3 linked regions of the Homo sapiens genome follow. The protein of the gene in region 1 interacts with the protein of each later gene in a biochemical or structural test. Each region holds a gene or a part of one and is shown in the gene's direction. Other genes may lie near its edges. The genes, in order: SLAMF1, INPP5D and SH2D1B.

Region 1 (10,448 bases):
TCTTTTTCATTGCTTCATAGAATATAAACGTATGAATATACTAGAGTTTATTTATCCAGTTGACTATTGATGGACATGTGGGTTATTTCCAGTTTGAGGCTATTATGAAAGTTGCAGCTGTGAACATTCATATGCAAGTCGTTAAGTGGACATGTGCACATATTTTTTTGGGTATATACCTAGATATACCTGGAAGTAGAACTGCTGAATCGTAGAGTATGCATACCTCCAAATTGACTAGATAAGGCCGAGCTGTTTTTCAAAGTGGGCGTATCCATTTACTTTTCTATCAGCTACATATGAGAGTCTCAATTGCTATGCCTTTTTTTTTTAAATTTTTTTTTGAGACAGAGTTTCACTCTGTTGCCTAGGCTGGGGTGCAGTGGCGTGATCTTGTCTTACTGCAACCTCCGCCTCCTGGGTTCAAGCCATTCTCCTGTCTCGGCCTCCCAAGCAGCTGGGATTACAGGTACGCACCACCACACCTGGCTCATTGTTGTATTTTTAGTAGAGACAGTATTTCACCATGTTGGCCAGGGTGGTCTCGAACTCCTGATCTCAGGAGATCTGCCCGCCTCAGCATCCCAAAGTGCTGGGATTACAGGCATGAGCCACCACTCCTGGCCTCAATTGCTATGCATTCTAATGAAAACTTGGTATTAACAGTCTAATTTTAGTCCTACTGTTGGATGTGTCTTATTATGCTTTTATTCCACATCTCTGTAATTATTAAGGAAGTTGAACAACTTTTCATATGTTTATTGGCCATATTAAAATTCTTTCTTAAAGTGCCCATTTAATCTCTTGCCCATTTCCCTTTGAGGTTTAGTCTTTCTTTTATGGACTAGTATATGCTTTTCATATATTTTGGATATGTGCCCTTTGGCAGATATGTTAGCAAATACCTTCACCCATCTGTAGCTTGCCTTTGGAATTTCTCAGAGATACCTACTGATAAAGAGAAGGTCTTAATTTTGTTGTAGACCAATTTAGTCTAGTCCTTTTTAAGCATTACTGGATTTTATTTGCTAATATTTTGTTAAGAGTTTGGTTTTCCACTTATGTTTCTGAGTGAAATTGGCCTGTAATTCTCTTGTATAATGCCTTTTTTTTTTTAAGAAGGCACTGCAGTGGCTGGTATATAGCATTCTTGTGAATATATCTAACTGGGATACAAGTTGAGGTAGAAATATTTCAAATGTCCTTAAAAAAATAAGTAACAGAGTTCTTCCTGGACTCTTCTTTAATCACAAGCCTCAGATTGATCCCAAAATGACACACAGCTACTCTACCTAATACCCACATCACGGTAAAGTTGGTCGCTCTCCTGTTAAAAATTCAGACTTTAAGAACTGGAAGGGACCTGGGTAGTCATGCCCAACCAGTGGGGTTTTGATATAAAGATTTATGCTAATTCACATAAGGAGTTGGGGTATATGTTAGTTTCCTAGGGATGCCTTAACAAATTACTGGAAACTTGGTGGCTTAAAACAACAGAAATTTATTCTCTAACAGTTCTGGAGGTCAGAAGTCCAAAATCAAGGAGGCACATCCTCAGGGCCACACTCCATCTGGAGGCTTTAGGAGAAAATCCTCTTTGCCTCTTCCAGCATCTGGTGGCTCCAGGCTCTCCGTGGCATTTGTTGGCTTGTAGTTGTGTATCTGCAATTTTTGCCTTCATCTTCACATGACCTCCCTCTCTGTGTCTTCTTCTTTTCCATCTCTTATAAGGACAGTCATCATCAGACTTCGGACTTATTCTAATCCAGGATGACCTTATTTTGAAATCCTTATCTTGACATCTGTGAAGACCTTTATTCAAATAAAGTCACATTTTGACATTCTGCCTGGACATATCTTTTGGGGCCACAGTTCAACCCACCACAGGGTGCATTTCCTTTTTGTTATTCTCTGCGATATTTGGGTAGGATGTCTTATTTCTCCCCTTAAATATTTGCTAGTAGAGCAAATTGCTAGTAAAGCTATCTGAGACTGGGGTTTCTTTGGTGGAAATTTTTTTAAGTTATATTTTTATTATTAAATTTTCTCCTCTACATATTAGTGAACAACTTTTTTCAGTCTTTTTAGTGGCTACCCTAGAAATTATAAAATACAACTTTGACTTACCAAAGTCTAAGGTTTACTTCCCTCCTGCATAATACTTCAAGTCCACAATAATTTCACCTCTTGATTTAAGTGACCGTTTTGTCATTATTTGAATTTCATATATATTTTAAACACACAAGACATAATTATTATTGTTTTATATATATAAATATATACTTAGACTTACCCACATTTTCACAATTTTCTTTGTTCATATTTGCGATGTCTTTATTATATCAATATAAAGACTGTAATAATGTAGACAATTATTTAAAAACTAACAATGCCTTTATTCTTATTTTTAATGGCTATAAAATAATCTTATAAAGAATATAATAACATGAAAATCACTAAACAAGTGTTTACTGTGTGCTAGGAACTCTTCTAGGACTTATCAGAGCTAGTATCTTGCAGAATTAATTCCAGCGGCCACCATTCACAAAAATTATGTGAAAATAATGCCTCTGGAGTTGCTTGTAAATGATGCTCCCTAAAGATGTACAAATCAGTGGTCCTAACAGAAGATAATAAGATACAAAAATATACTAACTTATTATATTTATGTTTAAAATAATTCCCTATGCCTGGATAAAAATCCTGAAGTGAACATTTAAGCACACACAGAGTCTTAATAGGACTATGGGTGACTTCTTTTACATATTTTTCTCCTTTCTAAAACTTCTGAATTAATGTTAAAAATGTAAGTTATTTGCCTCCTTCTGCCTCTAGGTCAGGTTATGCTAAAGTTCTCCCAAACAGGAAGACCAGCAGAGGTTGCATCTGTTGATAAAGGTCTCTCTTCTTTTTTTTTTTTTTTTGGTGATGCGGAGTCTCACTCTGTCGCCAGGCTAGAGTGCTGTGGCGCCATCTCAGCTCACTGCAACCTCCAGCTCCCTGGTTCAAGGGATTCTCCTGCCTCCGCCTCCTGAGTAGCTGGGATTACGGGCATGCACCATCATTCCTGGCTAATTTTTGTATTTTTAGTAGAGATGGGGTTTCACTATGTTGGCCAGGATGGTCTCGATCTCCTGACCTCGTGATCCACCCACCTCAGCCTCCCAAAGTGCTGGGATTACAGGCGTGAGCCACCACGCCCGGCCAAAGGTCTCTTAATAAACTGTTTTGATAGCCTCTTTATCTCATCACTGCAAGAAATTCTTTCTTAAACTCAAAATTTCTTCAAAATGTATTTAAGAATTGTATGGGATCTTGAAAGCCATCTATCTGAACCACCCAATTACTGCTTGAATTATCTGCTACAACATTACTTCCAAAGTGTTGCCTAGCTCCTTTTTACTGAAATATAGTTTGTGAACAAGCAGCATCAGCATCACCTGGGACTTTATTAGAAATGCAGAATCAGGCCCTGCTCCAGATCTTCCGAAATAGAATCAACCCTTTAACAAGATCCCCAAGTAATTCATATGCATAATAAAAGTCAGCAGCACTGGTCTAGACCATGCCCAAGCACTTATAACTATAGGAGCTCATTGCCTGCCAAGGCAATTCATCCCACATTTGAACATCTTTTACCATTAGAAAGATCTTCATTATATTGAATCAAAATATTTTCCCCAAATCCTAATCTTGGTTTAAACCTGAGATACTTTATAGGCAAATTGAATTCCTTTTCTATATGGCAATTCATCAAATATATGAAGAGAAAAATTATGTCCCATCCCTTTTTCCTCCAATAAACTTTCCTAATTCCTTAACCCTTCCATCACATGACAAAATTCCAAGTTTTCTCGCATTAAAACACATGTGGTGTGGCTTCAAGTCTGGCTCTATACCCAGGGAGAGTGGACAGCAGCATTATCCCATAACCAGTGTCCCCAAAATGTGTTGAATTAATGACTTCCCTATTGTAAGTGATGGCATCCGCATCTTACAAGGATGTGGTCTCAATTTATTTTGAGGTCTTTGTCCAGGAATTGTGGATTTTAATTCGTTCAAAGTAACATCAACAAATATCAGCTGAAGAGTTTATTTTTATGTGTCCAATACTGTTCTGTGGGGAGTACAAAAATATATGGCTTATTTCTCAAGGAATGTATAGACTGGAGAAACAACACATAAATATATCAGAATGTTTTAAATATAGCATAGAGTGCCATAAAGTGTAAATTAGACTTTAAATACCTGAGGAATTTAAGTAAGGGATAGGTCATTATAAGTTGAGTGACCAAAAAAGAATAGTGATAGAAAGGACATGCACCTTAAGTTAAAAGAGCTTAAGGCAGGGGACTCCCGGCTTTGACACTTCTTGCTTGTACACATTAGGAAAACATTTGGTCTTTCTGAGCTGTAGCTTCATCATCGGTGAAGTGTGAGTAACAACAGTATTTAACACAGAGTGGTTGTGAGGCAAATGAGAAGACATATGTGAGGAGGAGGAAGAGTAGGAATGGCAGTGTGGGATGCAAGAATTCTGCATGTAGCCGGTGATATGAGTGAGACGGACTAAATTCTGTTGCTATTCTGTCCCCTCCAGCTGCCCCTGTAAGAGCCACACCAATTTCAGTTTCTTGTGAGGAAGACATTTAAAACATTTGAGAAGCACTGACAATGGATGAGGCTGCCTTGGGAGGTTGTGCACCCCAAGACGCCACTTGGGGAGTCCAAGCAAAGCCTGGGGAATTGAGTTCCAGAGAATTTGGGGGAGAATTCCCACCTGAGAAGGAGGTTGGACCAAATGACTGGAAGGAACTTTCTGCCTCAAGTCTTCTTGAGTCTGTGCTTCTCTATCGGAGAGTTGGGTGAGAACTAGCTCTCTCTGTTCAGCTAATCTGCTTTCTTTGCTTCTCTTGTAGCCTCTTCAGAAGAAACTTGACTCCTTCCCAGCTCAGGACCCTTGCACCACCATATATGTTGCTGCCACAGAGCCTGTCCCAGAGTCTGTCCAGGTGAGGCATCTCTCTGCCTACTCTCCGTAGAGAGGGAATACATGAAGGAGGGGAAAATGAGGAAGTTTTTTTTTTTTAAGGTGGGAAGAGGGAGAGGATCAGGGAAAATAGCTATTGGGCACTAGGCTTCATACCTAGGTGACAAAATACTGTGTATAACAAATCCTCATGACACAAGTTTACCTATGTAACAAACCAGCACATGTACGCCTGAACTTAAAATAAAAGTAAAAAAAAAAAAATTAAAACAAAAACAAATTAAATGAAACAGATTGATGAGTCCTGGACTGGGGAAGGGAGGCCACAGCATGCAGGCAAAAAGGAGTCTCTGTGGCTTTGGTTTTCCAGTTTCCATGAAGCCCCCAATACCTGCTCACACGGGGCCACTGCTAACCCCCTGCTGGCCAGTGTTTCCCTGAGAGTTGTCCAAGGACCACATCAGAATCAGCCAGCGTACTTGTTAAAAATAAAGATTCCTAGGGACTTCCACCTAGGATTCTGTTAAATGAAAATGTCTATGGAGAGTAGCCATAGACCTACGTATTTAAAAAACCCACACCCCAGGTAATTCTGATACACACTCAAGTTTAAGAACAGCAGCTGGAGTCCAGGAGTTCTCAACTCCAGCTACAAAACAGAATCACCAGGGAAGCATTGTAAAAATGCTCATGCCTAGACTCTGTGCAGCCCCATTTAATCAGAATATTTAGGGGTGGAGATCTGCATAGGTGTTAAGCCTAGAAGAGAATATGGGGTGCAGCTCAAAATGATACTTGCATATTCTACCCTATTGCAAGATCAGCAGGGACTAAGTTTACTTCGGACAGGAATCTTTCCTTTACTGAATGAATAGAAATAAATTCTGGGCTGAAATCTTTGCTCCATTTGGGCTCTTTCAGAAGAGAGCCCAGGATGATAGAGGCACAAAGGTCACACAAATGCCTGCATCCACCTTATTTTTCAAAGCTCCTACCGCACACACACTCATCCAGAAATGCCTGGGCAGGTGCCCTATATTTCAAGATGAAACCAATCTTCAACTTGAGGTCCATTCTCACTTCACTGTCATATCTAAGAAGGAAGTAAAAATATAAACCTGACTTCAAAGCTTCAAAAAAATACATAGATTTTTAATGAAGTTTACTTAAGGACAAAAACAGTATGCTATAGTTAACATTTTATGGCAAAACCCTTAAATTCTATTTTCTTTGTTTCTTTGACATGAGAGATCTTTGCGCATAACCCTCTTCTCCCCTTCCTCTCTCCTGCCAATACCACTTTTCTCTTCTCCCTTTGAGTCCCACTAGACTTTTTAAAAACTCAATAATTTACAACTCTCTTGGCTTCCCAGATTGTGACCCATATGTAACAGCAAAACAAATGGTTTTCCTTACAAGGGGATGGAAGGGGAGAGGGCAAAGAGGGAGACAGGGCACTGAGTGCTGGTCCTCAGATCATGCTCCCCATAATAGCATGCTTATGCTTGGAAGGGAGCTGTGGCCCTTGTTGCAGGTGGAGAAGCAGTGTGGGAACCCAAGTGCTGTCCCAGCAAGGCCCTGTCTGTGACAGACCCTGCACAAGCCATGATCTCTAAGACCCTTTCCTTTTCCTCAGCAGTGCTGTTTTCATTTGCATTCTGTGAAGTGAGTATCCAGTCCCTCTACTCACAGACTTCTGCTTTGTCCCCAGGAAACAAATTCCATCACAGTCTATGCTAGTGTGACACTTCCAGAGAGCTGACACCAGAGACCAACAAAGGGACTTTCTGAAGGAAAATGGAAAAACCAAAATGAACACTGAACTTGGCCACAGGCCCCAAGTTTCCTCTGGCAGACATGCTGCACGTCTGTACCCTTCTCAGATCAACTCCCTGGTGATGTTTCTTCCACATACATCTGTGAAATGAACAAGGAAGTGAGGCTTCCCAAGAATTTAGCTTGCTGTGCAGTGGCTGCAGGCGCAGAACAGAGCGTTACTTGATAACAGCGTTCCATCTTTGTGTTGTAGCAGATGAAATGGACAGTAATGTGAGTTCAGACTTTGGGCATCTTGCTCTTGGCTGGAACTGGATAATAAAAATCAGACTGAAAGCCAGGACATCTGAGTACCTATCTCACACACTGGACCACCAGTCACAAAGTCTGGAAAAGTTTACATTTTGGCTATCTTTACTTTGTTCTGGGAGCTGATCATGATAACCTGCAGACCTGATCAAGCCTCTGTGCCTCAGTTTCTCTCTCAGGATAAAGAGTGAATAGAGGCTGAAGGGTGAATTTCTTATTATACATAAAACACTCTGATATTATTGTATAAAGGAAGCTAAGAATATTATTTTATTTGCAAAACCCAGAAGCTAAAAAGTCAATAAACAGAAAGAATGATTTTGAGATCTCTGAGTTTTGAACAGTGGACTGGAAACCATGTAAGAGCCTTAAAAGTACAGTTCTGTGCAAATGGCATTCAGTTTTAAAGAAAAACGTAGCAAATGTTTGATGGTGCTGTTACAAAGGAGCTTGGAATACTCAGAGGAACTTGTCCCATGGTGATTTTTCACTTCTCAAAATGATGTTTAAATCCCAGTTCTCTGTTGATTCCCTTGAACAACAAACCTGGAACCTCAGCTAAGACTCTCTGTGACCAGATTCTGAACCTCTTATATCCAGGGCTTCAAGGGGTATTGCAGGTCAAGGTCTTTCCTAGGCACTTTCTACTCCCTGCATACCTCTCCTCACACTAAATTTATCCTCTAGTAGAAAATTAAGTTATTTTGGTCTAACAGCTTCAAATCTTTGAATGCTCAATAACTTATTTTGCAAGCTGCAGGCAGAAAGAGACTTTTTAAGTAAAGTCCTTTGTTTTTTCCTATTCTCTGCTTTTAGACAGGCTGTCCTCAATTTAAGCCCTGCTTTTTCTTATTGTTTCTTATATAAACTTGGTAAGTACTGTAAGAAACAGCCACTATCATACCATTGCATAATAAGGAGCACCAACTTCCCAGCTCAAAACTCAGGTCCTTATTGCCTTGTATCTTACCTCCTCTATGAGGTCAATTCACATTGTAAGCCTGTTGCTTAGTGCATCTCGTTTCCTGGTACCAGCTTCTTTAATAGAGTTCTTAGTTGCAATCAACAGAAGCTGGCTTTGGCTTTTTTATGTAGAAAAGGAACCTATTGAAAAGATACTGATTGGTTCCAATAACTGCTAGAAGTTTCTGCAAAACCATGCTTTGAAAGTGAGCAGGAAAAGAAGAGACTAGGCTGTGGCTGGGAGCACAGCCAAAATTACAAAACCAGCCCAGGGATGATGATCCTGTTCATGCACAGCCACTGTCCCCAGCACTAGGCACAGACTCTACCACTGCCTCACTGTCTCTGCTGGACTTGGAAACTTGATATTACTGTTACTGCTGCACTGTCTGCCATGAAAATGAATTCTCCAGGGTCCCTTCTTCATCCTTTCATCTCTAGCTTATAATTCAAAGTCTGGGATTGAGTGGCCAATCCTAGGTCACATGTCCATGTCCTATCTCCAAGGGGGGCTGGGAATTGAATATCTGGCATTTTCCACTTTCACTTCTTATGAATTAAGGAATTCTACAAATAATAGAAGTGGGATTCAGGTGGTAGGCAGACAAAAAAGCCTCACAATTATCCACTACGCCACCCTTGTATAACCTTACCCTCATTCACTGTCTACTCTCAAAACTGTGGAGCTACTAATGAAGATTTGTAAACCCGGGCTTATGAGCACCCATTCCTTTACTACAACTCAGATTGCTCTAGAAGCTCAGTTCCCAGCACTTGGATTTTTCCAGTAGCTGAATTCTACCTGAAGGAAGGGCAGAAACAAAGGGTGAAGAAGAGGCTATCACTTCCAAGTATCCTGCACCCCTGGGCTCAAGACCTCACTGGGGAGGGAGTCTTTTGGGCCACCCACCAAACAGCACTGGCATTATGCCTCTCACCCTAGACCATGGTTACACGTGGTAAAACAACCCCTTCTGGTGATACATTCACAACTCTCTAGTTTCCCCCAAATGGCACTATGGGGAGCGGGAGCTTGCCTTTTCCTCAGACTTAAAACAATAAGTTTTCCCCGTGTTTCCCCTCTAATGCTGTTTTCTTTTGACCAAGCATGTCTGAATTCTAGAGAAGTCAGGAGGAACACACCCATTCTCGGTTTGAAGGGACTGATGTTCTGAAGTACAACTGGGCACAGTCCCAGGCTCTTCAGGACGCTTCCTCCATTCACACAGCGGGGATGTGATTGTTACAGCGGGTGGTGTGTGCTGGCTGAGAAGCCACTGTGAATTGATTCTTCTTCTGAAGTTTATGTTTCTACTTTTTGGAAATGAATAAATTACAGCCAGTCCATCAAGGAAATTGCAATTTTGTCTTGTGTTTCCTAAAGGATTTATAACACAGTAATATGGCATGATGTGTTTCCTGGCCTTATGTCTCCATGCCATAGTTATGAAATGCTGAAGGAGGCAGATTTGATCAGATAGGATGTGAGGTTGTCCCTTTCCTGGAGGTGGACAAGGGTTAGCTTGGCATCCCCTTCACCAAAGGTCAGGAACCACCCTCCACATGGAGAACTGTGTTGAAAGGATTGTTTAATTTTTGTCACTGCCAGAGTAATTCCCTTCCCTGAACTCTGCCAAATTCCCCTTGTGGACAAAATCTAGAGCAGGGTTTCTCAACTGCCACACTATTGACATTTGGGGCTGGATAATTTTTTTGTCATGGGGCTGTCCTGTGCACTGTAGGGTGTTTAACAGCATCCCTGGCCTCGGCCCACTGGGTGTATGGCACATGCCCTGTCCTTGATTGTGACAATCAAGTGTCTCCAAACACTACCAAATGTCCCCTGCTTGGCAAAATCTCCCCCAGTTGAGAACCACTGATCTAGAGATATGCTGGCCCCCTGGTGAGCTCTGAGAAAACTAAATACGCTTCTATATACCAAGAAGTAGATCTGTCAAAGGTGGCCACCTGGTCACTTAAGCATGGCCCAAACCTGCCAGTGACACCCAAGTTTACCTAAATATTAGAATTACCCGGGAAACTTTTTAAAAAATAATGATGACCAAATCTAACCTGAAACCAAAATGAGATCTGGGTTGAGATTTATAGAACTACTTATACCACAGAAAGGATTTCGTGATGAGTTTCACACACCAGCCACAAGAGGGTGATATAGCAACACAATCCACCCAACCTTAGCATCCCCACCACTTCCTTGTATCTAAAGGATGTGGACTTAGTCACAGACTGGATGAAACTGTGTCTGGTTTCTCAGCTCTTACAGGCTGAAAGGAGATAAGGAGGCTAATGTGGATTGATGAAAGGCTCTAAAAGGTTAAGTGTACTAAGTTTATTTCACAGAAGACTTCTAGTTCTACTCAATGCTTCACTCATTCAACAAAGTTATTAA
Region 2 (11,190 bases), on another chromosome or scaffold:
CAGGAGCTGGTCAGGGGGCCGCCTGGGAGACCCGCCTCATCGTGAGGACCTACCTGGTGCCAGACACATTACATAATTTCACAGACATTCTTCAACAGGGTGTCACTATCCCTTTACAGAGATGCAAACCAATCCAGAGATGCTACATAGTCATGGTAAAGCTGAGATTTGGATCCCAGCCTTGTTCCTGTGTGTCTAATTCAGAGTCTGATTTGCAGCACTAAAATGGAGCTTATCAGAGGAGCAGAACAGGGAAGGGGTGGAGGGTGCCATGATTTGAGATGTTGCCTTCCCATTGTTGGGGATGCACCAAGCCCCAGGAAGCCGTGGGGCCACATAGATGGATGGTCTCTGGCAAAATCTGTCAGGAATTCAGAGGACTGTGGCCACTAGCTCTGCAAATCTGAATGAAATTTGTGCCTGCAGGGGCCTGGGTGGATCTGGAAACGTCAAGATGCCGGTAGCAGAAATGGAACTGGAAAAGGAAAGGCAGGCTGGTGGAGCCTGGTATCTTGACAGAGCTCCAAAAACAACTGTGGAGAGAGAGGGATGGACAGAGAGAGAGAGAGAAGAGAGAGAGAGAGAGAGAGAGAGAGAGAGAGAGAGAGAGAGAGAGAGAGAAGGCTGGGTGGGGAGAGAGAGAGCTGGGAGGGAAGAAATTCTTTTCTGGCAGACAATAAGGGATCATAATCTGCTAGTTTGGGAGTGCTCCAGCTCTGCCAGACGTCTCCAGTGGGACGGTCTCCCTTCATCCTAGTCAGGGGCTGGGACTTGACTTCCTCTTCCACCATCTCAGTAAGCGACCTTGGCCTTTGATTTGAGAGGGGCCGATGTGGGCAGGGTAGATTCTCAGGACACAGGAGAGCATCCATCCTTCTTAACAAACTGTGAATAAGGTGCTGGCTCCTGCTTTTGACTGGTTTTCCCGGCTGGTCTTCCTCAGTGGCAGGAAGCAGGAGCCTGGGGGCTGACCCACCTGCCCTGGGCTCCTTGGGAGGGGAACAGTGGTGCTTGATCCCAGGAGGCTCCCTGTGAGTGGCTGCTCCCTTCTCCAGCAAAGGATGTCTTATTATCAGGTCTGAAGATGAGGGAAGTTCACTATTGATTACGCCAGCCAGTGAGCAACTTTCTAACTTCACGGTCAAGTATTTGCCCTTCTATTAATCAGGGTTCTTCAGAGAAGCAGATAGATAAGTAGATAGATTAGATAGATAGGGAGATAGATGGCTAGATAGATAGGGAGATAGATGGCTAGATAGATAGATAGATGGCTAAATAGATAGATGGATGGCTACATGGATGGATAGATAGATGGCTAGATAGATGGATGGATAGCTACATAGATGGATGGATAGATAGATAGATAGATAGATGGCTAAATAGATAGATGGCTAGATAGATAGACAGACAGATGGCTAGATACATAGACAGATGGCTAGATAGATATATGGATAAATAGATGACTAGATAGATAGATGACTAAATAGATAGGCAGATCGATAGATTTATAGATCAATAGATAGATAGGTAATAGTTAGACAGATGGCTAGACAGATGGATGGCCAGATAGATAGATAGATGGCTAGATAGATAGTGACTAGATAGATGGATAGGTAGATGGCTAGATAGATAGATGGATGGATGGTTAGCTAGATAGCTAGATAAATGGCTGGATAGATAGATGGATGGCTAGATACATAGATGACTAGATAGATAGTGGCTAGATGGATAGATAGATGGATGGCTAGATAGATGGCTAGATAGATAAATAGATGGATAGATAGATAGATGGCTAGATAGGTGGATAGATAGGTGGATGGCTAGAGAGATACACAGATGTATGGATAGATAGATAGATAGATAGATAGATAGATAGATAGATAGATAGATAGATATGGAATTGGCTCATAGGATGGTCAAGGCTGGCAAGTGCAAAGTCTGTAGAGTGGGCTGGCAGGCTGGAGACCCCGGGAAGAGTTGATGCTGCGGCTCGAGTCCATAGGCAATCTACTGGCAAATTTACTCTTTGGAGGAAGTCAGTCTTTTTCTATTAAGACCTTCAGCTTATTGGATGAGGCCTACACACAGGAATTGCTTTACTCAAAGTCTACTGATTTAAATGTTCATGTCATCTAAAAAATACTTTCAGAGAGACATCCAGAATAATGTTGACCAAATATCTGGGTCCTGAGGCCCAGCCAAGTTGACATAAAATTAACCATCACTGCTCCCTTTGCTTTTAGCACTCAGTGAGTGAACACTTTCAGCCCCTGCACCCCAAGCCATGAGTGATATCTATCTATCCACCCAGGCTGGGGGGAGTGGGAGCCCTGGGGCATAGTAAAGGGCTTCGATGAACACAGGAGGGGAAGGGAAGTACAGAGACAAATGCTTAGATATATTGTATATCTGTTAACATTGTATAGTAAATATATATTATATATATATAATGTGTGTGTATATATATACACACTATATATATGATGTAATGTGTGTGTGTATGTGTGTATATATATATATATATATACACACACACACACACATATATATATACAGTATATATTGACCTCTGCCTCCCCTCTCCTGGCTCAGTCCCTTCTCAGACCCTGAAATTCTTTCTGTTTCTTGTCCACGGTGGAAGGACCCCTGGACAAGAAGCTTGGTGTCTCCATTGTCCCTCTCTCCCAGCCTGCCCTGACCCTGTCCTGAGACTCAAACCTTCCTGTGACCCGCCCTCACTTAAGGTTGCCAAAGCAGAATTGCTCCAATGCCTTGGCCCTGCCATGTCAGCCCTCCTCTTCAACACTGAGGCCTGTCTGTTCTTCCCGGAGCTTCTAGAGTTGGCTGAGTGCCCATGACCAGGTGCCTGCCAGACCACCCTGATGCTTCTCACTGCCCAGCTTTCCCAGAAATTGTTCAAGTCCCCTGATGGGGCCTGGGGCTTGCCAGGGCTGGCAGTGCCTTTGGGCAGGTGCCCCAGTCTGGACCCAGGATCACATGAGTGAGTCTGACCCCACTTCTTCCCCTCAGCTGCTTTCCAAGCCTCTGCCCCATGGGTGAGGTTGACCAGATGCTCCAAGGAATGCATAGACTCACACTATGCAATCGCTCTGGGGCCCTATGGCTGGGTGTGACTCCTGGGCACAGCCTGGGGAGCAGGTTTCTCCTTTGAGTGGCCCCGAGCATTGAGGACAGCAAGGATAGTGGCAGGTGGTCTAGGCCCTCATCACCCCTGCCAGCAGCAGCTGGCAGTCCCTTATCCCTTCTGGAGGCTCCTGTCCACTATCAGGCAGCTGCCTCCTCCAACGTCTTTCGAGGACATTGCTCCACAGCACCGATACACCCACGGGCTCTTCCCATCAGCATCATCTCCCACCTCCCATCCATGTGGTGATGCTGAGCTCTCCACATTGATCCTGCCAAGCCAGATGCAGGCAGACATCCCTGGAGAGTGAGACTGCTCTTGTATGTGGAGGGCCAGGGTGCAATCATCATCAAATGGGATCTCAAGGTAGGAATGCAGTGATTATGGCCTAACACATTCAAGAGAATATGGCTGGAAGATGTGTGGTTCTACCTTTATGCTATAAAATTTGGAACAGTAATTTTTTTTTTTTTTTACTGTGTCGCTCTATCACCCAGGCTGGAGTGCAGTGGCACGATCTCGACTCACTGCAATCTTCGCCTCCTGGGTTCAAGTGATTATCCTGCTCAGCCTCCAAAGTAGCTGTAGCTGCGATTATAGGCACGTACCACACCCACCTGATTTTTTTTTTTTTTTTTTTTAGTAGAGACAGGGTTTCACCATGTTGGCCAGGCTGGTCTCAAACTCCTGACCTCAGGTGATCCACTCCCCTCAGCCTCCCAAAGTGCTGGGATTACAGGTGTTAGCCACTGTGCCTGGCCACTCTCTAGCCATTATTTGAAGTCTTCATTGATAAATCACTATCCCTCACATGAGTTTGTGAATTTTGTAATACGTTAAAATTATTTATATTGACTGGAGACCTACAAAAAAAAAAAATCCACCCACCAAAAGGGCAGCTCTGATCTAGATACTGGGATTTCCTGAATGTGGAGGGCAGAAGGGTGGGGGACAAGCCAGCTGACCATGCTGGATAGATCAGGCAATTGGGTGGAAAAGGAAGCAAAGTTGGGATGGGCCTTAAAAATGAGGGAAGAGTGCCCGTGTGGCGTGTGTGCCAGGGGATCTCACTCTGTGGAATGGCAAGGACCGTGGGAATAGAGGTGTGAGAGGTGGGGGGCTGGGGGTTTGGGGGAAGCTCTCTAAGTAGGGCAGTCTTGGCATGGTAGGGGTCTCTAGAGATGAGTGGGTGGAGGTGTAAAGGGACCAGTATTGCAAATGGATCCTCCTGGTGGCGTGGTCCAGGACTTCATGGATGTTGGTGGAGGCCAGCAGGGAAGTGAGAAGGGTGTGAAGGTACACAATGGGAGCATAGGAGATGACCCCATAAGGAGGGGGTGGACAGGTGCTGAGTGGAGGCGTGGGTGGGGAATGAGAGGCCTCCACACTGGGCTGCTGCAGAGGTGGCGTGCTGCGGAAGGGCCGGAGCATGGAGGCCAGTTCCCATCACCACTCTATCCCCACGCCTGGCTCCCAGCCTGGCCAGAGGTCCTTGACTGGGAGTGCTTTGTCTGCCCTACAGACTCGCCTGCCATGTGTGTTGCTCAGCGGGGAGGTGCTGGGGGCCCTGTTCTGGGACAACCATCAGTGTGACACATGTTGAGCCCCTGGGCACATGTGAGCTCTTTTACGAGCTACGTCCTTCAAGTTAGACAAGAAGAAACCAAGGCCGAGAGAGAGAAGAAACTTGACCAGGTTCCCACAGCTTGAATGTGGTGGCGCTGCCTGGCTGGTGCCCCTTCCTGGAGGGAGTCTGTTGTCATGTCCTGGAGGCCAAGGCCTGGATGTGGGATGGTGGGGGCACTCTTTGTGCAGCGGGTCAACACGTGCCCCTTCGGCCTTGGTGGGCCGGACCCAAGGACGGAAGGTGCCCAGGTCTGGGGGCTGAGGGATGGGTGTCCACCGCAGAGCCCTCAGAAATGACTGGTCCTGGATGGCGGTCCCTGGAGAGGCAGCTCCTCTTTGAGTGGTGGGCATATGTGGCCATGCCCAGTCTTGGAGGCGGTGCAGTCCGACCGGCCACCCCGACTGCTGAGACGCAGGACTCAGCACCCAGTGTTGTCCTTGGCCAGGCGGCCAGCCTGCCCTGTGGGGCTTTGGGGTTCTCCTCTCCGAGCTTGTTTCCCCAGCATCCTGGAGAAGCCCAGGGAAAAACCCAGCCTATGTTCCCGCTGTAAACGGCCCACATCCCCTCCAAGCTCCCTTTGTGTGTCTCCAAGCTGGACTGCAGGGATCAGAGCTGTGCTGCCCGTGCAGCACCCACCCGCCCCTGGGAATGAGGGTAATGGGGTCACAGAGCCATCACTTGGACCTTGGCGCCCTCGGCTGGTGGCAGCCAAGGTCTCCCAGCACCCAGGCCGCTGGGAGTCTCTAAAGGGGAGGGGTGGGGCTCGACTGTCCCCTCCCCCTCAAGTTTGCTCTGTCCTGGGCAGGCCGTAGTCCCAGTTGAGAAGCTGTGCCCCCTTGGGTGTTTTGGAGGTTCAGGGTGGGTGCTGAAAAGCCCTGAGGGAGAGCAGAAGGCTCGGGGGCCTGTCTAGGGCATGGCATCCCACGTGGGTGTCAGCACGGCCGCAGAAGAACCACTTCTCTGGCCCACCCATGCCTGCTAGGCCATGCTTCTTCAGAAGTGGCCACAACTCTCCTGACGTCTCCAGAGCCGGTCATTCCACCCAGGGGGACTTCAGCTGCCACTGGACACTTCAATTGTACGCTGCGACCAGTTGCCAGGAAGGAGAGGGCTGGCAAGAGAGCCGCGGCAGCCGTGGCAGGGTGTAGGGGACGGTGGACGGCCAGGGCCCCCCCCTCTCTCTCTTTCTCTCTCTCTCTCTTGCTTGGTTTCTGTAATGAGGAAGTTCTCCGCAGCTCAGTTTCCTTTCCCTCACTGAGCGCCTGAAACAGGAAGTCAGTCAGTTAAGCTGGTGGCAGCAGCCGAGGCCACCAAGAGGCAACGGGCGGCAGGTTGCAGTGGAGGGGCCTCCGCTCCCCTCGGTGGTGTGTGGGTCCTGGGGGTGCCTGCCGGCCCGGCCGAGGAGGCCCACGCCCACCATGGTCCCCTGCTGGAACCATGGCAACATCACCCGCTCCAAGGCGGAGGAGCTGCTTTCCAGGACAGGCAAGGACGGGAGCTTCCTCGTGCGTGCCAGCGAGTCCATCTCCCGGGCATACGCGCTCTGCGTGCTGTGAGTACAACCTGCTCCCTCCCCGGGCACAGATATGACAGAGGGGCTTAGAGGGGGCCCAGCTTTGAGATGGGTTGTTCTTATGTCACAGGACAGAGTGATCTGACATGCACACTTCCCCGCCACCCTGTCATGGACCTTGTCCTTGGAGTTCAGAGAGCTGGTCTCATGGCAGGTTTTGCAGCCTTGGAGCTGTCAGAACCACTCTGAGGCCTGATGTTACACCCCAGCTTCCCATGAGCTGTATGGACCTTGTGGCTTCCTTGGAGTCTGGGGACCGAGAGAAGGGAGTTTGGGCTTTTGGAGCCAGGAGGAAGCTCAGGGCTCTGTGGAGGTGGGTGTGTTAGAGATCAGCTCAAAGATGCCCAGCTCAGAAACCCTGAGAAGAGCAAAGGTGGCAAGGGGGACCCTTCCTGGAGCACCCAGGCTTCGGGCCCCTGGAGGAAGCTGTTGTTTGGCGAGCCAAGAATATGGGGTGAGTTTAATCAAGAAAGGACTTTCCATTCAGTCAGAAGCTGCTTTCAGGGGCCTGAGAGCAGAGGAAGTCACCATTACCACCAGCGAGCAGCCTCTTCTCTCTCCTGAGCACTTGGCTGTGACCGCTGCCCACCCCCCACCCCCTCAATTTGGGTCTCTGTCACCATCAACTCCTCCCACTGCCCGGTTGGGGATGTTACTGAATGTACCAGCTGTGCTAACAATGGAGGAACCAGCCACTTGCTGAAGGTTCCTTTCTAAAACCCCCTTCCTGTCCAGCGTCTGAAGGAGGCCCTTGCCCTGCAGCTCTCGGTCTAATCATAGGGGGGCCTTGCCCTGCAGCTCTTGGTCTAATCATTTTGCCGGGGCCTCAGGCAGTGCCGGAGTGTAGTCAGGGAAATGTGTGTCCACCTGAACATCTCAAGTAGCATCCCTGGGCTGGCAGAAATGTTCCCCCGAGCAGCCAGGGCCTTGTGCTTCTCCAGGCAGGAGGGGAATTGGGTGATGAACCCAGACCTGTTTTGAATACTGACTCACAGCTGGGACCTGTCGTGCTAAGCATTTGTTAGCCCATTTCATCCTCACCACAACCTAAAGTGAAGGTCCTGTTAAAAGCCCCACTTTGCAGATGAGAAATCTGAGGCCCTGGCAGGTTAAGTGAGTGACAACAGTCAAAGCCACGGCCATCTGCCCCCAGAGGCTGCAGCTGAGACCAGCAGCCTGTGGCCCAACCTCTCCTGCTCCCAGTCCAGCGGGGCAGGCATGTAGCCTTGCAGGGCTGGAGAAAGAAGCAAGGGGAGCCACAGTGTTTACAGGGTCAGCTGGGGCACTGGAAACCAAGCCAGGCTCGCAGCTGGTCGCTGGCCTGTGCTGACAGTCTGCAGCCCCACCTCCAAAGACTGGTTTCCTGTGTCCCCTCTCTCATGCCTCAGGGGAAGGAACGCAGGCCCAGGCTGCCTGGACTTCCCCAGTGGGGACCTGCTGCTGCCGGGGCCTTAGAAGGAGCAGGAAGATTCTCTTAGGCCTCTCACAAGCCCAGTCTGACTCCACCTGGCCCATGTGGGTTACTTGGATTTCTCTCCTGGCCCAGTGGGATCTTGTCCTGGCTGTTTGGTGTTGGCTGAGCCGAGGGCTTCCAGGGCCCCATCTCATTAACCTTCAACACAGCCCTTTGACCAGGGCTTGCTTTGTGGTTGCTCAGGTTACAGACATGGGGCGTGGGTCTCTCTGACTCCGAGCCGTGAGCATCTTAACGTCTAGGATTAGCCTGAGCCAGAGTCAGAGCTGGAGAGGCCTTGGAGAAGCTCTGGTGCAACAGCCCTGGCTTTTCAGGAGGTAGACAGAGGGCAGAGAGCCTGAGGCCTTTGTCCACCATGCTGGCTGGGGTCAAAACTGCTGGGATCCAGGCCAGTTCTCGTATTCCTTCCTCTACCTCTTCTCTCTGAACCCTTGTCTGCACTGAGTTCTCTCAGAGTCATGATGGGTGTGCAGTGTCTGCTCCTTAGAGAGGGACCTGTGGTGCCTACAGATGTCCACTATCCTCTCAGCCGAAGCCTCGTCAGCCTCCTATCCTGAGGCTGCTGGGCTGCAAACACCAGGAGTCCCACCCCTTGGCCAGACAAACCCTGGGCTCAGTGTTTCCCTTTCTCCTCTGCTCAGGGTGGGAAGCTTCCCTTCCTGCAGGGTCAGGCTCCACTGTAGGCCGTGGGTTGCTATGGACCTGCAGACTTTCCATACATCTGCAGGCTTCATATGGCTGCCACCCTGGATTTTGCCAATTACGGAGATTTTAAAACTAAAAACTAATTAAATGAATGATAACAAACTGTCATCTTCCAACACCTCATTTCTTGAAAGAAAGCAGCCTTTGACACCAAAAGAGGCAGGAAGGGCATTAAAAAAAAAAAAGCCAGTCATTTAAAGCAAAGAGATTGAACTTCTTGAAAAACAAACCCTACCACCCTTAGTTTTCTGTGTTCCCTGCAGAGTCGCCGTGGCCTGACGGAGACGGCAGAGGCAGACAGTCCCAGGCTGAGGGGTGTGCAGGGCAGCCGGGTTTTCTGCGGCTGCAGAAGTAGCAGGCTTTGCCCCCCTAGCCCTGGAAGCCTGGAGCCACCCTGCTCTAGAAGTGACTGCAGAAGGAAGCCACACACTCACCCTCCTGCCCTAGCAAAGTCCATGGGAAAAGTATACCTGCCCCATGGCCCCTCAGATCACCCAGGTGCCCTGACCTCATCCTGCCTGGGCCCCAGCAGCACTCCCTCCCAGGCCCCCTCTGGTGGGCAAGGGGACAACGGCCGGAGTCTCCACCTGATGGTTTGGGCAAGTGTGCCTGGAGTCTCAGGAACTGAGAGCAGCCTCACCAGGGAGGGGCCTTTGTGCTCAGGAAAGAGAACAGGATTTGACTATGTAAATGGACTTGAGCGGGGGTTGGACATCAAAAGACAGGGCTACAGTTCAGTGCCACCCATGTGACTTAGGAGTGCACATTCTGCGCACACCCAGCAAACCCTGCATTTCCTCGAGAGAGGTCAGCCCCGTCACCTACCACTGGGCAGGAAAGCTTTGATCTCACCTCAGCAGCTTGGAAAGCCCTGCTTGACAGGGAGCCTGGGCTCCATCTCGGGGCACAGACAGTTGCAGTGGGAAGACTCCAGCAGGTGGCTGCCTGGTTTGGGTCCAACTCTGCCGTCTTTCAGCCAGGGGCTCTTCTAAGTAGAGCCTATGTTGTCCCCACCTGGTCCCCACTCAAATCCCCCGGCAGAGTTGGCCCTGCTCCGGGGGGAGTCTGTGGGTGCCTCCAGGGGACGTTGGGTACATCGTGGGTGGGAGACATTAAGAGCTGTCAGGCTCATGCCCTCTCCTGCCACGCAGGGGCCAGCACACCTGGCAGGGCCTTATGCTGCAAAGAAGAGATGCCTTGGGAATGGGGTCAGTCAATGCAAGGGTCCATGGGTTGGCCGAGCCGGCATCCCCTTGTGCAATCTGCACAGGCAAAGCTGATCAAAGGCCCAATGTCAGTATATAGGCTGCCCTCTCTGCAGGAGCAGCTGGGGCCCGGGATCAGGCCTAGAGTGGCCGGCTCAGCTGTCTGCCATCCAGCCTGGAGTTGCGCAGGAGGGCGGCGTTCCCAGCCAACCACTCCAGAGAGAGGGGGCTTCCCTCATGGGGGAGGCGAAGGCACGTGGCTGCCTTTGGCTCAGAACCCAGTGCCTGGTCTGGCCACAGCTGACAGTGTGGTTTTGGTTTCCCTCCACATGTGGCCTTCCACAGGCCACCCAGGCACCATGGCAGGGTCTTGCTTACCCCTTCCCAGGGGCAGTGTAGACAGTGCACCGGACAGACCTGGCTTCACCAGCAGAAGGTTGTTACCAACCTGCTCCGCCTAATAACAGCAGGCAACTTCCAAAGAGCTCTGTGCCAGGCACCATTCTAGGCTTATATTGACTCATTTGATGTCCACGAAGACCTTCAAAGGAGGTCTTATTATCTCCACTTTACAGATGGGGAAACCGAGGTGCAGAGCGGTTTATGGAACAGGCCTAGTTTACAGGACTAACAAATAAAAGGGCCAGGATTGCATGCATGATCTTCCTGGAAGCGAGAAACAGAGACCATAAGGTGGCCTGTGTGGGGCGGGGCAGAGCCTGGAGAGGGAACTTCTCGTGATGGAGCCGCAGAGAAGGGACTTGGGAGGGCGAAACTCCTAATCTCAGAGAGTCCAACAGAGTTGGAAAGCTGTGGTGTGAGCGGGTGGCTAAGTCTCCCTTTCGAAGCTTCAGTAAAATAGACACTGTTAATTGTTTTTGTGCAAATGCAATAAGGCACTATTTTTCATATCTGATATTGACAGTCAGTGGGAAAAAATGCTGGCCCAGGTCGTAGCCAGAGCTACTGACATCTGGCTCACACCAGAAAGCCGGCCAAGGGGCTTTATCCAAGGCTGACTGTGCCGGGTTTTCTCTCTGCATGCAAGACCAGGAAGGGGTATGTGCCCTGGAAGGCCTATGTATTTCACTCACTAACTGTATCTTCCATGTGAAGTGACGCAGAGCAAGCATGTTAAAATGGAGTCTCCAGGTTTTCTGTGCCTACGCTCAGCCCCCGTGAAAAGTCCTTTCGGGTCCAGAGATTAGGCTCCAGCTTTGATGCTTTGCATGTTTGTCTACCTGGTAGGTTAAATTCATAAATTCATGAACACAATCAGCACTTCTTGGGTTTTTTTTTTTTTTTTTTTTGACAGAGTCTTGCTCTGTCGCCAAGGCTGGAGTGCAGTGGTGCAATCTTGGTTCACTGCAACCTCCGCCTCCCAGGATTAAGCAATTCTCCTACTTCAGCCCTCCAAGCAGCTGGGATTACAGGTGCCTGCCACCACACCGGGCTAATTTT
Region 3 (10,898 bases), 1.8 Mb from region 1:
CTCTCTCTCTGCCTTTCCTTTCTCGGCAGACCGGCTGGCCCTCGGGCTGACACTCTTGTGGCTCCAGAATGATTGCCAAAGGTCAAGGCCTCCCATGCAGACATATCACCATCCAGACAAAACAGGGGCCATCTTGTGTGGAATCTTTCAGATATGAACAATAATAGAAAACCAAGCCCTAACTACGTGCCAGCTGCATTATGTATATAATCCTCTCAGCAACTCTATATGGTCATTATAATGATCGTCTCCATTTTCTGAAAAACAAAGGCACAAAAAGCTAGGCAGTTTGCATTCATCACTGAGTAGCGAAATTGGAATTCAAATCCAGGCAGTCTGGTGGTGATATGGTTTGGATCTATGTCCCCACCAAATCTCATATTGAATTGTAATCCCCATTGTTGGAGGTGGGGCCTGGTGGGAGGTGATTGGATCATGAGGGCAGAGTTCTTATGAATGGGTTAGCACCATCCCTTCGGTGCTGTTCTTGTGATAGTGAGTGAGTTATTGTGAGATCTGGTTGTATAAAAGTGTGTGACACCTCCCCCTTCTCAGTCCTGCTCCCTCTTTGCCTTCCACCATGAGTAAAAGCTCTCTGAGCCGTCCCCAAAAGCAGATGCTTCCATGCTTCCTGCATAACCAGTGGACTGTGAGCCAATTCAACTTCTTTATGAATTACCCAGTCTCAGGTGTTTCTTTGTAGCAGTGCAAGAATGAACAGGTGGCAAGGCCTCTTGCTGAAGCCCCCACACCACACTGCCTCTCACATAGGCGGTTCTGCCCTTAGAGTCATGGAGATTCCAAGAATATTGGGGTCCCACTATAAAGTATGTTCAATGAATGATGGTGATGCAATGAGTTAGCTCTTTAAGGAGATAGACAAAGTGCTATCTCCTACGATAAGACAGTAGGAATGAAGTGGGAGGTCCTACACTGTTGCCCTCCATCAGGCATCTTTTAACAAGCACAACACAAGCATTTGCCATGCTGCTGTGGTCAGTGATGATCTTGTGATCTTGGGCTTTCTGGGGTTGACACCACACTGTCCAGTTTCTACGTGACTTTTCACTCAGAACAACACTGTGATTCACATTTGGCCTCATGCTTCCTTGGTCTTGAGAACAGAATTTTATCTGTAAGGCTGGATTTATTTGACATCTTTAGTAGAAAATAACAAAAACAAATGCCAACTAGCTTATGACAAAAGGGAAATCTATTAAAATGACAAAAAAACTCAAGGGCAAGCATGTAGCCAGACCTCAGAAATCACTGAATCCTGGAATGAAAACCCATGGAAAATCCAAGTGAGACTATCTTTTGACTCTGCTTTTTTTCATGTGTCCACTTCATTCCTCATTTTGCAGACCAGTTCTCTTCTCCTGACAGCTTGCTGGGATATGGCCACCAGTATACAGTGTAAAAATGTACCTGTTACACAGCCATTCCTAGAGAATTAATTTCCATTCCCATTTCCTACCCATCCCAGCCCCCTACCCTCTTTCTTTCTTTCTCTTTCTTTCTTTCTTTCTTTCTTTTTCTTTCTTTCTCTCTCTTTCTTCTTTCTTTCTCTCTTTCTTTCCTTCCCTTTCTCTCTTTCTTTTCTTTTTCTTTCTTTCTCTTTCTCTTCTTTCTTTCTTTCTCTTTCTTCCTTCCTTCCTTCCTTCCTTCCTTCCTTCCTTCCTTCCTTCCTTTCATCTCTCTCTCTTTTTCTCTCTCATTTCCTTCATTTCCCCATTTTCTCTAAACTCCTGGATAAGGGTTTGTGATTAACTTATCTTAGGTCGGAGGCCTATCCTTGATCAAATCACCCATGGCCAGAAGAATAGGGTCATGTTCTACAAACATAGTGCTAGGTTTTTGTTTCTGTGGATGAGAGAAAGGGGACCCACGCAAGAAATTGAAGATATTCCTGTGTACTGTGGAGCTATTCTTAAAGGTGACATGGGATCAGAATAATATGGGAATGGAAAGATATTTTTACTATTAAAACTTTACAACACATGCAAAAAGAGACATTAATATAATGAACCACACACACAATCACCCAGTATCAGACATAACACTTCAATACGTATCTCTAAAAGTTATATTCACAAAAGCATAATGCCATTGCTACACGCACTATCTAATATCAAATCAATACTTAAATTTCCCCCAGCACTAAATTTTTGGTATTTGGTTTTTTCAAGCCAAGATCCAAACAAGATGTCATCTAGCATTGGTTTCATGCTGCATAACCATCTTTTTAACCTAGAGCAGTTCTCACCCAACTATCTGACTCAGTTTTTACAACCTATGAAGACACCACATTATTTGTTCTACTGAATGTCCCATACACTGGATTCCAAGAGCTTAAAGCTTTTCTCCAAGGAGCTAGGACAAAGGGCTACATCTATATTTGGGCAAGGTTGATCTTTTACTGGATAATATAAATTCAACGTATTTTGATCAACCACAATCATTATTCCTTTGATACTTAAATTTTTCCATATTGGGTCTTATGTCCTTTGACATGACTCAGTCTTCACTGACACACTTATATGTCCCTGGCATGAATTCAGCCATTTCTCTAAAAAGTTCTTGCTTCTTTTATAGGAGAAGTGGTATTTAGAGACCATAGCCTTATCCCTAGGTGTGCTCATTGCTACCAAGTTTTCATTGTTTTAGCTAGGGATTGGCAAACTACAGCCCATAGTGCTGCTTTTACACTACAATGGCAGAGATGAATGGTTGCAACAGAGACTATTGCCTGCAATGCCTAAGAAAAAGTTTGCTGGCCCCTGTTTTAGGCCTTTTGTTGAAAAGCAAGTTGTAAATCCATGCTGATATTTCCAATTCAAATTTAGCATCAAAAATTTTATTTAACTTCTTTGCTTTTATATGTGTATCTCTTTTCTTATACTGAAAAAAAATCTTGATTCTAGAATTTTCCCAGGACTCATCTGTCTTTAACACTGAAAGTCGTAGATACTGGGAAACCCCTCAGACATAAGCAAACTGGTACAGTTGTTTACCTTACTTAGTTCTTAAAATGTTAATATCAGTATGATTTTTGTTTATCTTATAATATGAGTTAAATATATTTAAATTACACCAAATTATCACTAAATTTATTTGCTAGTTTATTTAATGTACAAGATATTTAATTAAAACTGTTCACTCAAATTCTACATTCTAAAGTCAGTTGAAATAATTTTCTTTATGATTATATTACCAAAGTAATGTTCAGTTAGATACATTATTTTAGTTTTTATTCCTCCTTTTAGGAATACCCTTTTACTTGTTTATTTTCAATGTGTAAAACAATTATGGCCGGGCGCTGTGGCTCACGCCTGTAATCCCAGCACTTTGGGAGGCCGAGGTGGGTGGATCACGAGGTCAGGAGATTGGGACCATCCTGACTAACATGGTGAAACCCCGTCTCTACTAAAAATACAAAAAATTAGCTGGGCGTGGTGGCAGGGGCCTGTAGTCCCAGCTATTCGGGAGGCTGAGGCAAGAGAATGGCATGAACCCAGGAGGCAGAGCTTGCAGTGAGCCGAGATCGCACCACTGCACTCCAGCCTGAGCGACAGAGTGAGACTCTGTCTCAAAACAAAACAAAACAAAACAAAAAAACAATTACATGATTCTACATTCAAAACTCCACAGCAGGCTGGGCGCAGTGGGTCACATCTGTAATCCCAGCACTTTGGGAGGCCGAGGCAGGCAGATCACTTGAAGTGAGGAGTTTGAGACCAGCCTGGGCCACATGGTGAAACCCTGTCTCTACTAAAAATACAAAAATTAGCTAGTCATGGTGGCACGTGCCTGTAGTCCCAGCTACTTGGGAGGCTGATGTGGGAGAATTGCTTGAACCAGGGAGGCAGAGGTTGCAGTAAGCCGAGATCACACCACTGCACTCCAGACTGGGTAACAGAGTGAGATTCTGTCTCAAAACAAAACAAAACAAAAAACCAACAACTCTACAGCAAGTTTTACTGAGAGAAGTCTCACCTCTATGCATGTTTCCGCTCTCCTCTTAGAGGCAGAAGTTTTTAGTTTTAATTAGTTTTAGTTTTGTTCTTCCAGTGGGTGTTTCGTTTGTTTTTTAAATATGAGCAAATATTATAAATGTATATATTTATTTATATCCCCCATACTCTATATACTATTGTGCATCTTGCTGCTTTCACCTAAAAATACATCCTGAAGATTATTGCATATCAGCATATAGAGATCTTCCTCAATCCCATTTTATTATTCTATAGTAATATTCCATTGTATACATGAATCACAGTTTATTCACCTGTCCCTCTATTCACAAGTCTTTGAGTTGTTTGTAATCTTTTTCTATTAAAAAATACTACCTTATTCACAAGTCATTTTCTAATTCTGCCTGTGTAGTTTTGTGACAGATTTCTAGAACTGAGATTGTTCTATCAGATGGTGAAGGCATACATAAATTTGCAAGATATTGCCAAACCATCTTTTACTATAGTTGTAACTATTTTTTATTCCAACTAATGATATACAAGATATTCTATTTTCTTTCACCATGACCAACCCAATAAGCTTTCAAACTTTTGATTTTCACCCATATGATAGGTGAGAGTTGTTATCTCAGCATGCAGGTAATTTGCATTTCTTTTATTGTGAGGGTTGGATTTTGAAACAGCAAAAAGGGCAAGGAAGCCCCTGTGATGACCAAGAGCCTGAGCATGCTTTCAGTTATTTCCTCTCTTATGTCAAAAAGCATCTTTACACCACGATTGTGAATTTATTCACAAGAAATACCAAATTTCTTCTTTCATTATTAACAACTCTGTCTTCAACTGCCATAGTTTCCAGAGAATTGAATAATGAATTGTCCAAAACCACAGAAGAAAAGTTGCTATTTGAGAGCATATCTGTCTGATAACGAGTTCCCTGATCAGTGAAACTGCACTATGCCAAATGCAGAGTGGGAATTCCAAGGAAGAACAAAGATCTGTTACAAGGAAGTTCCATAGAAGATACACCCAACTGTGAGTAAACAGCTGGTAAGCAAAGTAGCAAGGTGAAATAAACATCTAGGTTAAGAAGAAGTTAAGATCTCCAGGTACTACGGAGATGAAGAAAACAAAAAAAAGAAGAAGTTAAGAGAAGTAAAGATGAATCGTTAGCACATAGTTCTATTTTCATAGATAACATTTTTGAGATATATATAGTGATTTTCTGTAGATATATGAGTATACCCAGATATCCCTCCCACCTACACCAGCCCTTTCTCCAAAAGGAACAATGCTTGAGGGTGTTCAAATGGCCTTTTTTCACCAGTGGCTGGGAGCCTTAGCCATGGAATGGGCTGTCCTCATCCACAGTGTCCCACTGTTTTTTATTGCCATTAATGTCTTCCATTTTTAGTGTCATTTGATCCACGGAAATCCCACCCTTTCAATTTTCCCATTGTATCTGAGCATATCAATTCTCTCAGCATCCAAATGGTTTTTGAGCACCCAGTCTAAGCTAAGCATAGCCCAATCCTAGGCAACTTCAGCAGAAAATGGGTACCATTACAGCAAAAGCAGCGGTGTGCTTCCTGGAAAGGATACCAGTAGCCAAAGAAGTTGATGATAGTCCATGGTAATATACAAGGCTGCAACACAGTTCCAGGAAGCTTGACTTCAGCATTGCCTCCCTAGCCATGAGCATCACTGATTCCATTGTGTGTTTAAATGTGCTTTACCTACTTCTGTGAGTCACATGTGGGCCATTTAGAGGGTGAAAAGTGTTGGTCATTTTATCACCCCGCCCTCCTCATTTCCTGAATCTTGTGAAGCTGGCTGAGTCCCACAGACCGCTAGAGGAAGAGGTAGCTCCACAGGAGGTACAGCTGCTTACACATCTCTCCTCAGAGCTGTCCCTTGACTTGGGGGTGAATTTCAGGCCAACAGGGCTTCCTGGGATACAAGAGCGTTCTCCATGGATCTGCCTTACTACCATGGACGTCTGACCAAGCAAGACTGTGAGACCTTGCTGCTCAAGGAAGGGGTGGATGGCAACTTTCTTTTAAGAGACAGCGAGTCGATACCAGGAGTCCTGTGCCTCTGTGTCTCGTGAGTAGCCTCATCTTGCACACATCTGACATCGTATGTTGAATGTGGCAATGGCTGCCACACAGTACAGGAATTCATATCCCTCAGTATTTCACTCTGACTTTGGAGTCTCAATGAGTAGAATGAGAAGTAATGGACACTGCCAGGAGAGGAATGTATCTGTCCATGCTCCTCCATCTGCCTGCTCTCCCTGGTGTAAAGGCCCTGCAAGCAGACTCTGCAGCAGCAGGAGGGACATGGTGGTGGTGAAGGGAAGGGCTGCAGGAAGTACAGGGGTACAGAGGGATGGAAAGAAGGTACAAATGTCAGAGGTCCTGTCCTCCAGAGATCTGTTTATTTGGTATGGAAAAGGCTAGGGGTTCTTCAAGAAATTTCAATCTGAAACACTTATTCTGCAGCATCTGCTTGCAATACGTAAACTATAAATACAATCATATTTCACATTTTGTTAGATTTGTGAAGGACTTCAATATTCGTCATTTCCTTTCATCCTAGTAGTCTATCAAGGCAAGCATAAGCAGTCACCATTTCATAGGTAAAGAAACAGAGACCTGAATTTCTCAAATAATTTGTTTGTGTTAAAACTCATTTGGAATTTCCAGAGTCTAAGTTAAACATGAAATTCCAGGCTGGGCATGGTGGCTCATGCCTGTAATCCCAACACTTTGGGAGGCTGAGGCAGGTGAATCACTTGAGGTCAGGAGTTTGAGACCAGCCTGGCCAACACGGCAAAACCCCATCTCTACCAAAAATACAAAAATTAACCTGGTGTGGTGGCGTGTGCCTGTAATACTGGCTACTTGAGAGGCTGAGACAGGAGAATCACTTGAACCCAGGAGGCAGAGGCTGCAGTGAGCTGAGATTGCACCACTGCACTCCAGCCTGGGCAATAGAGTGAGACTCTGTCCAAAAAAAAGAAAAAAGAGTGGCTGGGCACAGTGGCTCACTCCTGTAATCCCAGCACTTTGGGAAGCGGAGGCAGGTGAATCACCTGAGGTCGGGAGTTCGAGACCAGCCTGACCAACACGAAGAAACCCCGTCTCTACTAAAAATACAAAATTAGCCAGGTGTGGTGGCGTATGCTTGTAATCCCAGCTATTTGGGAGGCTGAGGCAGGAGAATCACTTGAACCCGGGTGGTGGAGGTTGCAGTGAGCTGAGATTGTGCCATTGCACTCCAGCCTGGGCAACAAGAGCAAAACTCCATCTCAAAAAAAAAAAAAAAAAGAAAAAGAAAAACAAATTCCAGGCCACAGTATCAAAGAGACCTAGCTGAAGGAACTTGTTTATGCCCAGTTTAGAAAGCAATCCTGAACAGAAATCACTAGAAACCTCCTATCTTTATGTATGTTCCTCTTTGTAAAGTAGGGACCACTGAACCTTTTATTATACCTGTAACAGAAATTAAAATCCAAATGTCTCTTGTTAAAGAAAAAAATTACTCAATGTCACTTGTTAAATTATGGTTGGGAAGACTTTATTCAGGATCATCACAAAGGTACAGGGACCACTGCAATGAGCTCTTGCGGCACAGAAAAGAGACTGGACTCAACTCTGAATCCAGCATGGACAAGTGGGAATTTATGGCCAAGGAGCAGTGTGGCTGTCGGTAGACAGAAAATTACTCGGAGGAAACATCAGGGGTAAAGTGGATTCTGGCTAAACCAGCCTAACAGAATTGTAGCTGAAGACAGGCCCGGGTGATCAGATGTTGCCTGGGGGATGGTGGAGGATGAGGAATCTGATCAGAATCCAACAGTGATCAGATAGCTAGGGTGAGGGGTCCTTGCCAAACTGACTTAGTAGGGTTCTTTGCTAAAACTGGATTTTACAAGGAAGTACACAAATGGGCCTTGGAATAGGCTCAGAAGTCTGATTATAGACAAAAGTGATTGTCATTACTAATAGAATACACAGGGACATATTTCTTTCTTTAAATGGTACTGGAGATACAGGCTATTTCTCTCATATCTACATCCAACAGTACCATTTAAAGAAAAATATATATTGGCCAGGCGCGGTGGCTCATGCCTGTAATCCTAGCAATTTGGGAGGCTGAGGTGGGCTGATCACTGAGGTCAGGAGTTCAAGACCAGCCTGGCCAACATAATGAAACCCCCATCTACTAAAAATACAAAAATTAGCCAGGCATGGTGGGTGCAGTTGTATCCCAGCTACTTGGGAGGCTGAGGCATGAGAATCGCTTGAACCCAGGAGGCAGAGGTTGCAGTGAGCCGAGATCGCGCCATTATACTCCAGCCTGAGAGACAGAGAAAGACTCTCCATCTCAAATAAAATAAACAAAGAGTGGAAAAGATCTGCTTACATGTAAATGGGATGGAGGGCATTTTAGGAAGGGGAGGAGGTAGGAACAGGAGTCTAGAAGTGGGATATTTTAAAGGATTTACATACAAGGTTCCTAAAATGTAGTTTGGAAACCAGCTTTTGGAAAAGGAGGGTGGGATAAGATCATGGAGTTTTAAAAGAATGGTTCTATAGATAACAGGGAAACATGGATGGTTTCTGAGCAGGGAAGTGAAAAGACTGGTGAATTTAGGAACTTCAATTTGACGTGGAGAACACAATGAAGCTGGGAAATGATGGCAACAGAAACTGTTGTGTCTCTGGACGGGAGACGGTGAAGAGCTAGTTGTGCTGGGGCAAGCAGTGGGAAGGGAAAAAACAAGAAGGTGCAAGGACAGACCTTGGCCAGGATCTCAGGGTATATGGTCAATATGGGATTCTCTTCCTTCCTTTCTTTCTTTTTTTTTTTTTTAGACAGGGTCTCACTCCAGCTCCTAGGCTGGAGTGCAGTGGTGCGATCATGGCTCACTGCAACCTCAACCTTCTGGGTTCAAGAGATTCTCCTGTCTCAGGCCCCCTGAGTATCTGGGACTACAGGTGCGCACTACCATGCCTGGTTAATGTTTAAATTTTTTGTAGACATGGGGTCTCGCTATGTTGCCCAGGCTGATTTCGAGCTCCTGGGCTCCAGTGATCCACCCACCTCAGCCTCCCAAAGTGCTGGGATTACAGGCATGAGCCACTGCACCCAGCCTATATTGGGATTCTCTTTGAAAATTGATATTTATTCTCAACTGTTCTGTGGTGCATCAGCCCATCTTGCATATTCATCTAAAGCAAAGGTCACTAAGAGATGCTAAAAAATGGGCCAGGCGTGGTGGCTCACACCTGTATTCCCAGCACTCTGGGAGGCCGAGGCGGGCAGATCACTAGGTCAAGAGATTGAGACCATCCTGGCCAACATGGTGAAACTCTGTCTCTACTAAAAATACAAAACTAATTAGCTGGGTGTGGTGGCATGCGCCTGTAGTCCCAGCTACTCAGGAGGCTGAGGCAGGAGAATTGCTTGAACCCAGGAGGCGGAGGTTGCAGTGAGCCAAGATCGCACCACTGCACTCCAGCCGGGTTACAGAGCGAGACTTGATCTCAAAAAAAAAAAAAAAAAGAAGAGAAAAAAAGAGAAGCTAAAAAATGAAAATAAACCAAGTGGAGAGGCAAAAATAAATATTTGTTAAGCCCCTGCACATGATCAGGTCTCACCCACCTCCCTACACATGTCACTGAAAGGCAAACAACATTTCATTCACCCTCAGGCTTAAGGCTTAGGTCAAGTGACCCCTGAAGCTATCTCCTCATAGGGCCTTGTAAAAATGTATTATCATACAGATAAGTATGGACTATTAAATTCTAGTTGTTCAACAAATATTTGAATTCTCTCATATGTCAGACAGTGTGCTAGACACTCGGTTGATGCCTTCAACACAACTCAGAGCCTAGTGGGGAAAATAAAGAAGTAAACAGACACAGTGATGCATGTGATAATTATGATGATTGGACTATCATTAGGGCACTGTAGAGCTGACAGCAAAAAGGGGAGAACCAGATATTGGAGCTGAGACTTTAGGAGAATAAGTGGAACCTTCATTCATTCAACAAGCATATACTGAGCACTTATTATGTTCCATGCGTGGTCCTAAGCATTGGTAATACAGTGATAAATACTACTGGCAATGTTTCTGCCCTCATGAAGTTAATTTCAGTAAGAGGAGAAAATATGATGAAAATGAAACAGAGTCATATGACAGGGAGAGACACAGCTGCTGCTTTCCATTGGGTACAGGAAAGGTTTCTCTGAAGAGGTCACATCAACCAATTCATGCTTCAAGATACAACCCTTTGCAAGCAAAGCAAGAATTACTATTATGATACAAGTGTTAGCCTGCTTGTCTTCACTGACACAGAAAAAGTTACCATGTAGGTATTATCTATGAGCCAAACATTTTGCTAAGCATGGTACATGCATTATCTTATTTGTCATTTGCAATCCCTTTGCGGTAGGCGACATGATCACTATTTTGTGAGAAAATAAACTGTAGCTTCTTATTTAATAGCTTGCCTAGGGCCAAATTGCTAATATGTTATTACATTCCCTCTCTTACCAATGTCCCCAGCTTCACTGAAATATGTTTCAGGTAATCACCTTGGATCTGTGTTATAAAATGCCCAAGCAGGGGACCTGAGGGCTTGGGAGTGGACTCTGATATGCAGTGTCCCCTTCTTCTCTGCTGCATTAAAATGGGTCTCCCCTGGACACCCAGCTTTAAAATTTCTCTGTTTTGTACTCTTTCCCTTTATTTCTTAGACTGGCCGACACTTAGGGAGAATAGAAAAGAACCTACGTTGAAATATTGGGGGCTGGTTCCCCCGATACTTCAGGACTTTCACAGAGCTAAATATTTAGTGATGAAAATACTGTGAGGAAGGTTAGAAATAAAAGAAGGAGGTCACAGAGAGAGCT

The links.
Region 2: the proteins of SLAMF1 (region 1) and INPP5D form a complex in vitro, tested with the Homo sapiens proteins (one study listed by BioGRID).
Region 3: the proteins of SLAMF1 (region 1) and SH2D1B interact in a test that uses a peptide from one of them, tested with the Homo sapiens proteins (2 studies listed by BioGRID).

The regions. Positions count from the first base shown.
Region 1 is NC_000001.11:160,607,052-160,617,499, reverse strand, and holds the end of SLAMF1 (signaling lymphocytic activation molecule isoform b precursor), read left to right. Parts: intron 1-4,919; coding exon 4,920-5,012; exon of another isoform or gene 5,013-5,013; intron 5,014-6,701; coding exon 6,702-6,752; 3' UTR 6,753-9,394; downstream 9,395-10,448.
Region 2 is NC_000002.12:233,054,289-233,065,478, forward strand, and holds the start of INPP5D (phosphatidylinositol 3,4,5-trisphosphate 5-phosphatase 1), read left to right. Parts: upstream 1-6,053; 5' UTR 6,054-6,190; coding exon 6,191-6,324; intron 6,325-11,190. UniProt on the Homo sapiens protein: Phosphatidylinositol (PtdIns) phosphatase that specifically hydrolyzes the 5-phosphate of phosphatidylinositol-3,4,5-trisphosphate (PtdIns(3,4,5)P3) to produce PtdIns(3,4)P2, thereby negatively regulating the PI3K (phosphoinositide 3-kinase) pathways.
Region 3 is NC_000001.11:162,407,062-162,417,959, reverse strand, and holds the start of SH2D1B (SH2 domain-containing protein 1B), read left to right. Parts: upstream 1-5,823; 5' UTR 5,824-5,943; coding exon 5,944-6,077; intron 6,078-10,898. UniProt on the Homo sapiens protein: Cytoplasmic adapter regulating receptors of the signaling lymphocytic activation molecule (SLAM) family such as CD84, SLAMF1, LY9 and CD244. In SLAM signaling seems to cooperate with SH2D1A/SAP.